2 linked regions of the Homo sapiens genome follow. The protein of the gene in region 1 interacts with the protein of each later gene in a pairwise test. Each region holds a gene or a part of one and is shown on either strand. Other genes may lie near its edges.

Evidence for each region. Proteins that work in one complex are often made in the same cells at the same time.
Region 2: the proteins of BBS4 (region 1) and IQCB1 interact in binary tests that used the Homo sapiens proteins (3 or more experiments, as listed by UniProt).

The regions. Positions count from the first base shown.
Region 1 is NC_000015.10:72,681,977-72,689,213, forward strand, and holds the start of BBS4 (BBSome complex member BBS4), read left to right. Parts: upstream 1-4,230; 5' UTR 4,231-4,251; coding exon 4,252-4,275; exon of another isoform or gene 4,276-4,540; coding exon of another isoform or gene 4,541-4,588; intron 4,589-7,237.
Region 2 is NC_000003.12:121,790,061-121,797,088, reverse strand, and holds part of IQCB1 (IQ calmodulin-binding motif-containing protein 1), read left to right. Parts: intron 1-1,522; coding exon 1,523-1,632; intron 1,633-6,873; coding exon 6,874-7,016; intron 7,017-7,028. UniProt on the Homo sapiens protein: Involved in ciliogenesis. The function in an early step in cilia formation depends on its association with CEP290/NPHP6.

The DNA of each region.
Region 1 (7,237 bases):
TACCTTGATTATAGACGCAAGTCACTGGGCCTTGGGATTATAGACGCGAGTCACTGGGCCCAGCTTTCTTTCCAGTTTTAAAGTATTATTTTTAATTATCCAAACTAAATGTGTAGTAAATACTCTTCTTATAAATCTTTGTTTTCTTGATTGCTTCCTTAGCATATAATTTCAGAAATAGAACTGATCAAAGGGTATGCACATTTTTAAGGATTTATAATGCCAGATGCCTTCCAAAAGATGTTAACAACTTATTGAACTGACAGTATATAAGGGTGCTATAGAGTAATTTATTTATTTGAAAAACAAATCTTTATTGTGTAGAAATATGTATTTTAAAAATCCCCCAGAAAAGATGCTCTTCTCTCATTTCCCCATCCTCTTCCTTTTCTTCCACACCTCTGATATGAAGGACATTATTATACCTTATTAAAACTTCATCCACACTAGGCATGGTGGCTCATGCCTGTAATCCTGGCATTTTGGGAGGCCAAGGCAGGCAGATCACTTGAGGTCAGGAGTTTGAGACCAGCCTGGCCAACATGGTGAAATCCTGTCTCTACTAAAAATACAACAATTAGCCAGGTGTGGTGGCTGACGCTTGTAATCCCAGCTACTTGGGAGGCCAAGGCACGAGAATCACTTGAACCTGGAGGTTGCAGTGAGCTGAGATCGCACCACTGCACTCCAGCCTGGGTGATAGAGCGAGACTCTGTCTAAAAATAAGATAAAATAAAATAAAATGAAAACTTCATCCAGATGTCTAGACAACACTTTAACTATGTATTCTTCTGTATTTGCAAGTTACATGTTCATATAGCCATCTACAGATACCAGTTAGCCTTTGTAATCCATTCCCCACTTAAGTTTCACCATCTACTGGCTTTTCTGTTAATCCCTTGAGGAAAGGTTTGGAATTGAGGAGTAAATCCTTTATAAGGAGAATGCTGCAGTCTATTCGCTATTCACCGCTGACCAAGCTGCCACCTGGCCCTCCTGACTGCAGCAGGCACCCCCAGACAGTCATGTAAATGGACTAGGCCTGAGTCTGTAGTTCTTTGCTCTGAAAAAGGAGACGTAATGGCTTCTACTTTTTATCATTTGGTGGAAATAATAGAGGAGTTTTTCTAGAATGTTTTTTGATCTGGTGGTTAAAGGGAACTTGGACATTTAGTCCCTGAAATAAATTGTTGCATCTTTGAAGGAAAAGATGAAAGTAGTTTCTTACACTTTAGTGAAGAAGCCTTTGGAAAATTTTGTTCTGGATGTTGTATATTCTCTGTAGAGGAGTGTTGGGGATTCCCCACATCAGCAGAACTAAAGGGTAACTGAAGAGAACAGGGAGTGACATGTCAGATTGAGAATCAGTCTTTTGAAAGTGGCAAAAAGAATATGTGTTAAAAGAAAAAATAGGGTAGAAGATAAAAAGAATAGGGCAGAAGATATTAGCTTCAATTCCTCCTTTTTTTTTTTTTTTTTTGATCCTTTGGAATGATTTCTTCCTAGACTGCCAGTGTTGCGTAGTAACCCCGCCCATGAAGAGGACTGGAATACTGAAAAACTGCATGAAACTAAGCGCTGTGGGTTGGGCGGGGTGGCTCACGCCTGTAATTCCACACTTTGGGAGGCCAAGTTGGCTGGATTGCTTGAGCTCAGGAGCTTGAGACCAGCCTAGGTAACATGATGAAACCCCATCTTTACAAAAGATACAAAAATTAGCTGGGTGTGGTGGCATGAAGCTGTAGTCCCAGCTACTCAGGAGGCTGAGGTGGGAGGATCACTTGAGCCTGGGAGGTAGAGGCTGCAGTGAGCCGTGATTGTCCCACTGCACTTCCGCCTGGGCAACAGAGCGAGATCCTGTCCCAAAAACAAAAAAACTAAGCACTGTGGATTAGAAATTAATAATTTTTCATCTTTATATCTTTTTTTTTTTTTTTGAGACAGTCTTGCTCTGTCTCCCAGGCTGGAGTGCAGTGGCACGATCTCGGCTCACTTAGGCAAGGTGTTTAATTAATCTCTGAAAAGTGGAGAATTTAGCACCAGGCATGGTGACTGGTGCCTGTAATCCTAGCTACTTGAGAGGATGAGGTGGAAGTGTTAAAGGTGGAGGGTGTCCAGGTTCTTGGTGTCTTGAAAAAAGAATTGGACAAAATGCACAAACAAAGCAAGGAAGGGACAAGGAATTTACTGAACATGAAAGTACACTCCAGTGTGGGAGCGGGCCTGAGCTTAGAAGTTCAGTGGCTCCGTTACAGAATTTTGGGGAGTTTAAATAACCCCAGAGGATTCCATGGTTACTTCGGGTATGCCTTATGTAAATAGAGAAGATGAAGTAAAGTTACAAAGACATTTATGGCCTATGCCCTATGGACAGAATATTACCTGTTATAGCTGAAGTGTGAATTGGCCTTATGTTCCCTACCTCCAGACCCTATTTTCCTGCCTCAGGAGGATTACTTGAGCCTAGGAGTTCAAGTCCAGTCTGGACATCAATAGTGAGACCCCTGCCTCTGAAAAAAAATTTTTTTGAGACAGAGTTTTGCTCTTGTTGCCCAGGCTGGAGTGCAATGGGATGATCTCAGCTCACTGTAACTTCCACCTCCTGGATTCAAGCAATTCTCCTGCCTCAGCTTCCCTAGTAGCTGGGATTACAGGAGCCGGCCACCACGCCCGGATAATTTTTTGTATTTTTAGTAGAGACAGGGTTACACCATGTTGGCCAGGCTGGTCTTGAACTCCTGACCTCAGGTGATCTGCCCACCTCAGCCTCACAAAGTCCTGGGATTACAGGCGTGAGCCACCGAGCCCAGCAAATTTTTGTTTTTTAGACGGAGTCTCCCTCTATCGCCCAGGCTGGAGCACAGAAATGCGATCTCGGCTCACTGCAACCTCTGCCGCTTGGGTTCAAGTGATTCTCCTGACTCAGCCTCCCGAGTAGCTGCGATTACAGGCGGGCACCACCATGCCCGACTAATTTTTTGTATTTTTAGTAGAGACGGGGTTTCACCATGCTGGCCAAGCTGGAAAATTTTATTTTTAATAAATGAAAGGCAGAGTATTTATCTGAAAAAAGTGGGAGACCAACAGTCTCATGGGATTGTTATAAAGATTAAAAGAGAGAGTGTTACTGAAATACTTAGAAGAGCTGTTATTCTATTGCTGTCCTTTCCCCTTGTATTTGGATAGATTACCGTACTTGTTTCTTCTATGTAACTCTAATTGTCAGTGGGGTTCTCCCTCTCTTAGAGGCCTGGAGAAACTTGTCTTAAATGCTTTCCCAGTTAATGAATTGGGAGAGGCAGATTTTATGTCTAAATTACAAGGGCGAGACTTAAAAGTATGAATTGGGGCTAATGTCAGTGCTCAGGTGCAGGGATCCTCCGTTTTGTTCATCACACAGCTCCCGGCACTTTAATAAATGAGGCTCAAAGAAACGACGGGCTTAGGTCATGCAGTAGTCAAATTCAGAACTCATGTTTGATTCCAAAGCCCACACGTTTTCCTAGTTTAGAAACACTAAACATTTAATTCACCGCACCGGGGGCCAGACAGGTAATGGAGAACGCCTTAAGTATGTTAGGAAGGGAAGTTATCTACAGTCGCAGCCGCTATTCAGATCTATTTCACTGCCTTGCAGAAAACGCCGACTGTCGTCTCTTTATCCCATGGCCGATTTCTTGTGAAATCTCCTAACTTTTAAATATTTCCAATCAAAAGACTGCCGTTCAAATGCAGCCCACCAGGAGCATGTTTGCAAACTCTGGAGTAAACAAGAGTGGGAAGCTGATAAGGTGAGTACCTCAGTTCGATAGTGACAGCCAAGAAACGGGGAGTTTTGTACCTAAGGCGAGAAAGAAATTCTCCGCCGAAATCTCCCGGAAGAAGGACTGAATTAAATGCAGATTAGAGTCAGGGCAGGGTAAGGTGGCGGGAGAACTAGGCTGCCATCCCAGGTGGCTGGCCTACCAGCCAGCGCGGCCGGAGGTACAGACCATGTACAGACCACGGCGAGGGGTGTTAGGGGCTTCTCGGGATAAAGGCAGCGAGTGGCTGCGCATTCCCTCCCCGACTCTTTCAGAGGTAAGCCTTCTGTGGAGCAGACCCTAATCCTCCCCCTGATTCCTTAGGTCACTCGGCGATTTACTTCCTTCCCCCGCTTCCTCACAGTCCTCCACAGCCCTACGACTTCCGCTTGCCTCGTCGTCTGGGAAACCGCCGACTTCCGGCCGCGCAGCGGTGGGCTGAGCTAAAATGGCTGAGGAGAGAGTCGCGACGGTGAGCGCCGAGATTCTCTTTAGTTGCCCGGCCGCAGGGCAAGGCAAGCTGGCGGGTGGCTTTTGTCCCATGCAGCGGTTCCTGGAGAGAGGCGGAGCTGGGTGCCGAGCGTCTCAGGGTGGGCGGGGCGACACGGTCCCCTTTTTACTGTCCCGGGAACTGGTCGCCTGGGGCAAGTCTGGATACTTAGCAGCACAGGTCCTGTTCTAGGACTGTAGTCCCTCTTGGGGTGCGCTGGACGGAGAAGGGAGACTTTTCACCAGTAATGGCTCTTACCGTAGTGCCATCTTTTTCTGTCTCGGGGGTTTGGAAGGTAATGACTAGCACTTGTGTAGACAGTTCCTGTTAATCCCGTGAATTGGGAATTTAACATGCCTGGAAGCTTGCAGCGTCACTGCCTTCTGCCAGTGGAGCGGGACTGTGTTTTTTCTGTGGTGATTAAGTTTAGGAAAGTACGGTTTTGGAATTCATCTGAAGGCTGAGTTGGGCGTTCACTCCACAGAACTGCTAATATAGAGGAACCCGATGAATTCAGGATGACCTAGTCGCTATTTTTTGAGGCATATATCTATAATTGGATCTAATTTCGGTAAAGTGCCAAGTGTGAAGCTTTGTTTACCTTGCTTTAGTGTTGGGTTTGAAAGCCTGTTCTGTCCATTTGTTAGAATGATTTTAGGTATTCGGAATTTATTGTCTTTCGAAAAACGCCCTGGAAAACAGTACAAATAGCAGCCTTTGGCTGTTTTACAACTTAGTTTTGGCTAAGCAGCAAGGTTAGTGTTATTGTTAGAGGGCCTTTTGTTTGTTTTCTACTCTCATTTGCAGAGTAGTCATATTATTCTAGTCTAATTAGAAAACTCTGAAGACAGAAACTTTTTTTTTTGAGACGGAGTGTCGCTGTTGTCGGCCCGGGCTGGAGTGCAATGGCGCGATCTCGGCTCACTGCAACCTCCGCCTCCCAGGTTCCAGCAATTCTCCTGCCTCAGCCTCCGGATTAGCTGAGAATACAGGCGCCTGCCACCACGCCCGGCCGAAACATTTTTATTAAGCTAAGAAATTTAAAATAGCTAGGCCGGACGCGGTGCATCACGCCTGTAATCCCAGCACTTTGGGAGGCCGAGACGGGTGGATCACTTGAGGTCATGAGTTTGAGACCATCCTGGCCAACATGGTGAAACCCCGTCTCTACTAAAAATACAAAAATTAGCGGGGCATCGTGGCGCTCGCCTGTAATCCCAGGTACCTGGAAGGCTGAGGCAGGAGAATCGCTTGAACCCCGGAGGCGGAGGTTGCAGTGAGCCGAGATCATGCCATTGCACTCCAGCATGAGCGACAGAGACAGACTCCTTCTCAAAAAAAAAGAAAGAAAAAACAGATTTTAAAATAATTAAATAGGCCAGGCTCAGTGGCTCACGCCTGTAATCCTAGCACCTTGGGAGGCTGAGGTGGGTGGATCGCCTGAGGTCAGGAGTTCGAGACCAGCCTGGCCAACGTAGTGAAACCCTGTCCCTACTAAAAAAATACAAAAAATTAGCTGGACGTGGTGGCGGGCGCTGGTAATCCCAGCTACTAGGGAGGCTGAGGCAGGAGAATCGCTTAGAACCCAGGAGGCAGAGGTTGCAGTGAGCCGAGATCGTGCCATTTCACTGCAGCCTGGGCATCCAGAGCAAAACTCCGTCTCAGAAAAAAAAAAAAAGTAAATAGCATGGTTAATGTTACTGGGTTTTAAATATTAAAAACATAGGAAAGAAAATACTTCCACTCCAGCCTGGGTGACAGAGCAAGACTCCGTCTCAAAAAAAAAAAAAAAAAAAAAAAGAAAATACTTCTAAGTAATCTTAAAGTGTAAAAGATAATGGGTAACATAACATTGCTACAAATATAGCTTATCCTCTAGTGCTCATCACAAGTGTTTGTGTAATAGAATATGAACTTGAGTCTGTGACGGCAGAATTGTCATGTACATTTGAATGTCTAATACTGTTTTAAAGAGAATAGCTTTTGTTTCGATATGACTTAGCAATTAAGCCTGAAGTTAACTGTTTTCATTGTTGTCAAATTTATTGCTAGTAGTGTTACGTTTATAGTAATTTTCATCTTTTCAAGTTACCAATGCATGGAAATGTGAATTTCTGTCCTTTTAGGAAGTGGTATTTTATCTTTTTTTTTTTTTTTTTTTTGAGACGGAGTCTCACTTTGTCGCCCTGTCTGGAGTGCAGTGGCGTGATCTCAGCTCAGTGGAACCTCTGCCTCCCGGGTTCAAGTGATTTTTCTGCCTCAGCCTCCCGAGTAGCTGGGGTTACAGGCCCTCACCACCATGCCTGGCTTATTTTTGTGGAGATGGGGTTTCACCACGTTGGCCAGGCTGGTCTTGAACTCCTGACCTTGTGATCTGCACGCCTCGGTCTCCCAAAGTGTTGGGATTACAGGCGTGAGCCATGGCCCCCTGCCTTATTTTTTAATACAATTAAAAGAACCCAGTAATCCTACTCCTAGACCTGTGTCCCACAGAAAAAAGTGTTAAACATGAGCGTGTAGTACTAGGGCATTCGTTGTAGTACTATCCGTAGTGGCAAAACGCTGGAAGCAAATTAAATGCCCATTAATAGGGTAATTGATGACTTCAGATATTTCCATACTGTGGAATATTATGCAGTCATTAAAAAGAATGTTACAACTAATTGCTTTTCCTCTCAGAAGCCCCTCTCTCTCACTAGAGAAAGCTGTTCTCCTTTCTTTCTTCTGCCTATTAAACCTCCATTCCTAAACTCAGAAAGAAAAAAAAAAAAAGAGAATGTTACGACTAATTGACTTGGAGGGACTTCCATGGTGTACATTTAAATAAAAGGTAGATGTGAAGTGGGGTATATTATGTGATCTTAATTTCATAACACAAAGGAAAACATATAGATCCGTAGATAAGGATATATGGATATGGAGGAGAGAAAAGGAAAAGACTCAA
Region 2 (7,028 bases), on another chromosome or scaffold:
TGATATTTGCTGACTATATTAAACCTTAGTTTTCCTTAAATGTTCCTCACTTTCTTTCTCTTAAGATTTCAAGCAAAATACCCCCAAAACAGAAATATCTTTAAATTTTTTACTCAGGAGGTTGAGGCAGGAGGATTGCTTGAGTCCAGGAATTGGAGACTGCCCTATGATCACACCCATGAGTAGCCACTGCACCCCAGCCTGGTCAAAATAGCAAAACCCCATCTTTAAAATATAATGTTACAAAATTGTATCTCTCCGCCATTCAATCTGCTGGAAAACATAATTTCAATCTCCCATTTACATCTGTTTATAAATACTGCCACATCAGTTTCATTCATCATTTCTCATGAAAGCCCCATCTCTGATGTTTATCTTCTTTTATCTATAAGCTATTTAAACTTTTAAAACTGTTTTTCCAAAAAAAATCTCTAATTGTAGCAAACTGTATTTATGGTTACCTATGGCTACCCTTCTTGTTCTTTGAGATACAACAATAATGCCTTTTCCTTTGTGTAAGAAATGGTATTAATAAAATTATTTAGAAATTTGAGGCAGCAAGTTATTGATTATTTCATCATACTTCCTCTAGCATACTCAAAATGATGGCTCTAAATAGCCCATTCAACAGGAAGAGGCATATTGCTTTCTGATTTCCAGATAAAGACTTAAATATGGAAAACATCTAAAATGACTAAAGATATTTTTTAATTTAAAAGGAAAAGGGGACATTGTATATCCAAAATCCAAAACCAAAAAGACAATAAATTTAAAAATACAAGCAGAAACCATGAAAATAAGTCCAGTAAGGCAGGAGAATGGGTTGGGGGAGGCTGGAAGGAAGAGTGCAGAAGAAGGGAATTCCTTTTTTCTGTATATATGAACCATCGTGAGTTTAGATTAATCTCAAAACTATGCATATGCTCAAATTCATATTGATTAGGTAACAAAATCATAAAACTATATTTTATTATTAATAGTTGTACCCTTTGCCATTCCATTTGAGGACTCAGAAGTCTATTAAGTAAACAGGAGACTGGGACAGAATTCAGTCAAGAACTCAGACAGCTCACTGACCTTTTAAGCCCAATGGTCTATCAGGAGAATAGCATATCAAAAGCTTACAGAACTAAACAGAGATTCGAGCAACCATCCACAATGGTCAACAGAGCTTATAGTTTGAACCTAACTAGGTTGATTGCCTATTAAGTAAAAACATTAACATGTTAGCTCAAAAAAGATTATGAAAGGTCAGGCGGACTATGAAATCTTTGAAAAGGAAATGGAAGTGAGATTATTCTGGGAGAATTTGGAGCTAACTAGACTATATCTTGAGTATGTTCTAGAAATTGCCTTACCAAGCCTAACATACCTCCTTTGGGAGGTAAGGTTTAATATTCTTACCCATCTTGTTAGAGCTAGAGATTAATATTTGCCCTAACCTGATACTTTAAGAGGTAAACTTTTTTTTTTTTTTAAAGACCTTCCTAGAGATATCTCTAAATTATTTTCGGCATTTCAGAAACTACATCAAGCAGCATGCTTGATTCAAGCCTATTGGAAGGGTTTTCAGACAAGAAAGAGATTAAAGAAGCTTCCATCTGCTGTGATTGCTTTGCAGAGGAGTTTCAGGTAAAAAAATTTGGTGAGGGGATTGATGATCATAGAATCTTACTAGAGTACAGTTGAATTGAAATTTAGGTGATTTTTTTTTAATTTCCTAGTATGTTTCTTGTTATCTTTTCATTTTTTTTCCATACGTTTCTGGGTACCAACACTCCAGTAACCAGATGCACTTTCAAAGCAAAGGATGTAAGACAGGAATCTGATGTGTCAAATATGCAATCCTATCCACTTAATAAGATATTTGGGGAGGGGCCAAGCCTACAAAGGGAGCCAATGATAGTTATATTATTAAACCCTCTAAACCAACAGTTATCATAATTTCGTGTGTATAATTATAACAATAACATGTATGCGTATAAGAGTTTAAGTCTGTTAACCTGATTTTCCTGAATAAATATGGCATGGATGGATATCTTCATTGAATTATGATATAGTTCGGCATTTATTTCAAGTAGACTGAAAAGGAAATACTGAAGACATAGCCCACTTTCTGCAATGACTTAACCAATCCAGATCCTCCAAGGTCACAGAACAAGAAAAAATAACTTAGCTTCTAGGTAATTTATGGTAAAGAAGATCTGTTTCAGAGGTGACTTTTTCATGCAGCCTAACTTAAAGCCAAGCTTTAGTTTGCTAAAATGAAACTGGCATTTTACAGAAGTTAATTCTTTAAAGAAAACTGAAACTATTCTTTTAATAACTGCAGATGCATTTCTCAGTTATAAAAACATTTAAAAATAGCTCTGGGGTTCAAAATACTATGTAGTCACAGAGTTGAAGACATTGAAATCACTCTAGCTAACTGTGTCTCTTAGTGGGTATCCTATTAATTGATGAACGTTTTCTTCAGGGAAGAATTAAAGATGGATTTTAAATATTATTGGGCATGAATATTGTTGGTAGCAAAGAAAAGAATTAATTTTTAAATATATATCAAATGCCTAGTATATGATATATGTACTAGGCATTTAACAGATTCGAGTTTGTATCTCACTTGAGCAGCTTACTGGTTGAGTGAACTTGGACAATCCCCCACCTCTCTCAGCCTCAAACTTCCAATCTATAAAATGAGAATAATAGTTTATACACTTGTATGATCAAGATAATGTAAAATTTGAGATAATACAAAGTTTTTAGCATATTATCTGGCACTTAAAAAATGATAGAAGGAAAAATGCATATGGCACATTTTCTGTCCTTGAAAATTTACAAATCTAGGTAAACAAATAGATGCATTAAATAGGTAGTACTAATGAGAAGCAAGTATTATCCATCTATTATTACTCAAAGTTTATTGCCTATCTTACAAGCTGTTTTTTTTTTAAAAGCATTTCTGTGGTTAGATAAATTTGGGAAATATTGAGTACTTTTTGAGTCACAGTGTATATTTTTCTACCCAAAGCATCTGAGGTGCTCTTGGTATTGCCTCTGTGGTGAATTCAGATAGAGTAGGTATTACTTATGGATTCCACCTGCTATCATCCTTAGTTACCTGTCATCTTAAATTTAAGGGTACCCTTATACATGGATTCAGAGCATTAATGTTTAGTCCCACAAGAGTTCCCAAATTTGCTCATATACTCTCTCTTTCAATATTAAAATCTCTATTTAAAAGTAGCCCAGGATTACAGATTTTTTTCTACTTAGAAGTGTATCTATGGAATCTAATATTCCATTATTTTAAAATAGAAATTCCATTGCTTTCTTTATGTAACCAGAAGAGTTATAAATACTTCCATTAAAAAGATAAGCTGTGAAGCAAAAATTATTTAAGTCTCACATTTTGTGTTTGTTGCCTTTCCAGTATTTTTGCATTTGAGGTTCCAGAATATACTGAAATGCGGTTCTAACCTGTTGGATTCTATTTAATTTTTTAATTTTCAGTTTTCTCCAGTTCAGCACCTTCGCTCTTCTATTAGTTGTAACAGTTCATGCAAATGTCTCTTGCTTCCTTTGTAGCTTGGTTTTTTTTCAAAGGTTATTTCTGTCTTTTTGTGCTCAGGACTTATCTCAGTAATTTCCCCTTCCCATGGTTTTGGGAGAGAGACTGCCCACTGGTCACACTTATGGGTCCAGGTTGATTAGTGTTCTTTAGATTCAGCAAGAGGCATTCTTTTATAGTCACGCCCTTGCTAATGCACTTTCATAGTGGTTTCTTTTTTATTTAGTCATTTCTCGTATTCAGAAACTTTGTCTCTTAAGTACTCTTATTCAGCAAGGTTTTCTGAAGCGGCTAACAGCTGCTCTAGTTATCTTAGAGAAACCTCACAATTTACCTACCTCTATCATAGTGCTGATTTTTAAGTGTTTTAATTACATTTGTTGATTTCATCTTGAAACTGAGCTTCTTAAATGCAGATAGCATCTTTTTTCTCTCTCTCCCTCTGAGGCACAGTGTCTTGGCAGCAGAAAATTTGGTCAACTCCCACTTTAATGGTAAAAATTCAGATTGATTAAATGTAAATCATGGAATTTACTTATTTCAGAATATGACATCTGATCAGTCATTTCATCTTCAGAAGTGTAGTACAGATGCCAGGTGGTCCAGTGCCTACTAATTCTTACAAAGAAACCAGTTGGAAGAATAATTGTTTGATTTTTGAGTGATTAGAGAAACTCTGAACAAAATAACTCGATGTTATTTAATAATAAATGGGGGAATTACATTCAAAATCACTTCAGTTCCTAATAAATGTTTTCAGATATGAAAGTAAAACATATGAATCCAATAAGCACACCTGTTTACAATTTAGTCCCTATTTAAATCACCAAATCTCACTTTTTTTTTTTTTTTTTTTTTTGAGACGGAGTCTTGCTCTGTGGCCCAGGCGGGAGTGCAGTGGCGCAATCTCGGCTCACTGCAAGCTCCGCCTCCCGGGTTCACACCATTCTCCTGCCTCAGCCTCCCGAGTAGCTGGGACTACAGGCGCCCGCCATCACGCCCGGCTAATTTTTTTGTTATTTTTTAGTAGAGACGGGGTTTCACCGTGTTAGCCAGGATGGTCTCGATCTCCTGACCTCGTGATCCACCCGCCTCGGCCTCCCAAAGTGCTGGGATTACAAGCGTGAGCCACCGCGCCCGGCCCAAATCTCACTTTTGTCCTGTCTTTCTGGTTTGTACTTTACTTCCACCTTCATGCTCCATAGTCTTTTCATTTTTGCCATATTTGATAGCCTACATGCCTAAATTGTTTCCCAAACCCAGTTTTCTGACAGATTAAATATTCTAGCAGATGCAATTTTAATGATTACTATGTTTTTCATACTAATAGTGTAAAATGGTATTTAAAATATTGATAATGCAGTATTAGACATTATAATCTATAGCCAATTAGAAGTTAGAAACAGAGGTAGTTTTTTGTCGTTGTTGTTGTTTTGAGGCGGAGTCTCACTCTGTCACTCAGGCTAGAGTGCAGTGGCACGATCTTGGCTCACTGCAACCTCCACCTCCCAGGTTCAAGCTCCTGCCTCAGCCTCCCAAGTAGCTGGGACTACAAGTGCACACCATCACACCCAGCTAATTTTTGTATTTTTAGTAGAAATGGGGTTTCGCTATGTTGGCCAGGCTGGTCTCAAACTCCTGACCTCAGGTGATCCACCCACCTTGGCCTCCCAAAGTGCTGGGATTACAGGCGTGAACCACCGCGCCCGGCCACAGAGGTAGTTTTTTAAAAATCAGTTTAAAAGGAGGCTCTGTTTAGGGCCTGCTCTCTTTTACCCTCTATGAATGGGTAAGAGATAAAACATTATTATCTGCATGCTGTATAACCCAGAAGTTTTGAGGTGATGGAGTTCTGTAGAACAGGCAAGTTGCTATCAGCTATTCTTTGGGAAGGGAGAGGCCCTTACCTACTTCATTTCCAGCTTTCACAAAGAGCAAGAGACACTTAGAACTATTCAACTAGCCCTAGATCTTCTCTGGAATCTTTTGACACACATACACTTTTGAGGTCTTCTCTACCCTTGATAATAGGGATAAGAAAGAAGTTTCAAAACAAATAAATTCTCTACTCTGCCCTAAGTAGAAAGCTAGAGAAAATTTAAGTTGTAATTGATGGAAGAATTTATGAGAAACAACCACAGGCACACAAAATTTTATCAAAATCAAAATAAACTATTTTGAGTTGAAAATTCAGTTGAAAAATCATAATAATCCTAACTATACTATAATGAAGTCTGACTATTAAGAGTACAAAGCTATAGCCAAGGTACCACATTTGTTTACAGTTTAATTCTAAGAATACAGTTTAAAAAAAAGATCTAAGAGAAAATGTTCTTGAGGGAGACACATGTCAAATTAAGTCTATAGCGGTAAACTAAGTAGTTTATTCTGCCTTTCTTCTTATCCTCGTTTTCTTTTTCTGTGGGTGTCTGAAAGCATTTTGAGTATATTTACTGTAAACTGACACTTGTAGTCTCCTTACATAGTGATATTGGAAGCAACAAAAACTAGATGGGAATGGCTAAGGAGAAATTTTGGTGAATAAAAGCAGATAATACAGAAATTATAATTATATAAAATGTTTGTGGTCACATGAAAATTTTCATAACCAGTTATGAAAGTAATGTTCAGTTGTCAATAATTGAGAAATAGGCATAAGAAGAAAATAAAGATCAACTGTAATTACATCATGCAGTAAAAATCACTTGAAATTTTAATGTTTTTTATTTTTTTTTTGTGTAAGTAAATGTAAGTTTTTTGACACAATTTTGATGTCATTCTTCTATATCCTGATTTTCCTTTTACCTGACATTAGATCATCAGTATATTCTCATGTCACTAAATATTCTTCGAACATTTTATGTTTTCATAGTTCATAGAATCCCATCCCATCAGGTGAATGAACCAGTATCTGTTTATCCAACTCGCTGTTGTGAGACAAAGTTTGTTTTCAACTTGTTACTGTTGTAATACTGTGGAGAACATTTTTGAACATAAATTTTTACATATATATCTGATTATTTCCTTAAGAAAATTATTTGTAATAGAATTAATTGGTCATCACTTTTAAGGCTTTTTATTTATATATTTCAAATATTTTTCCAGACTTTTAATGCATATATTCAAATATTTCTACAGAAAGATTGCACAACAGCAGCAGATGACAAGCTATTTTATCATACCTTATTAACACTAGAAATTATCTTAAAATTTTTTCTGTTTACATTTATTTGATTACTAGTGAGGTTATGCATTTTTTCATATGATTTATGAAAATTATGTATAACACACTGTTTCCATCACAGATCCAAACGATCAAAGATGTTGCTGGAGATAAATAGGCAGAAGGAAGAAGAGGACCTCAAATTACAATTGCAACTTCAAAGACAGAGAGCCATGAGACTTTCCCGAGAATTGCAGCTGAGTATGCTCGAAATAGTTCATCCAGGTGAGTGGCAGT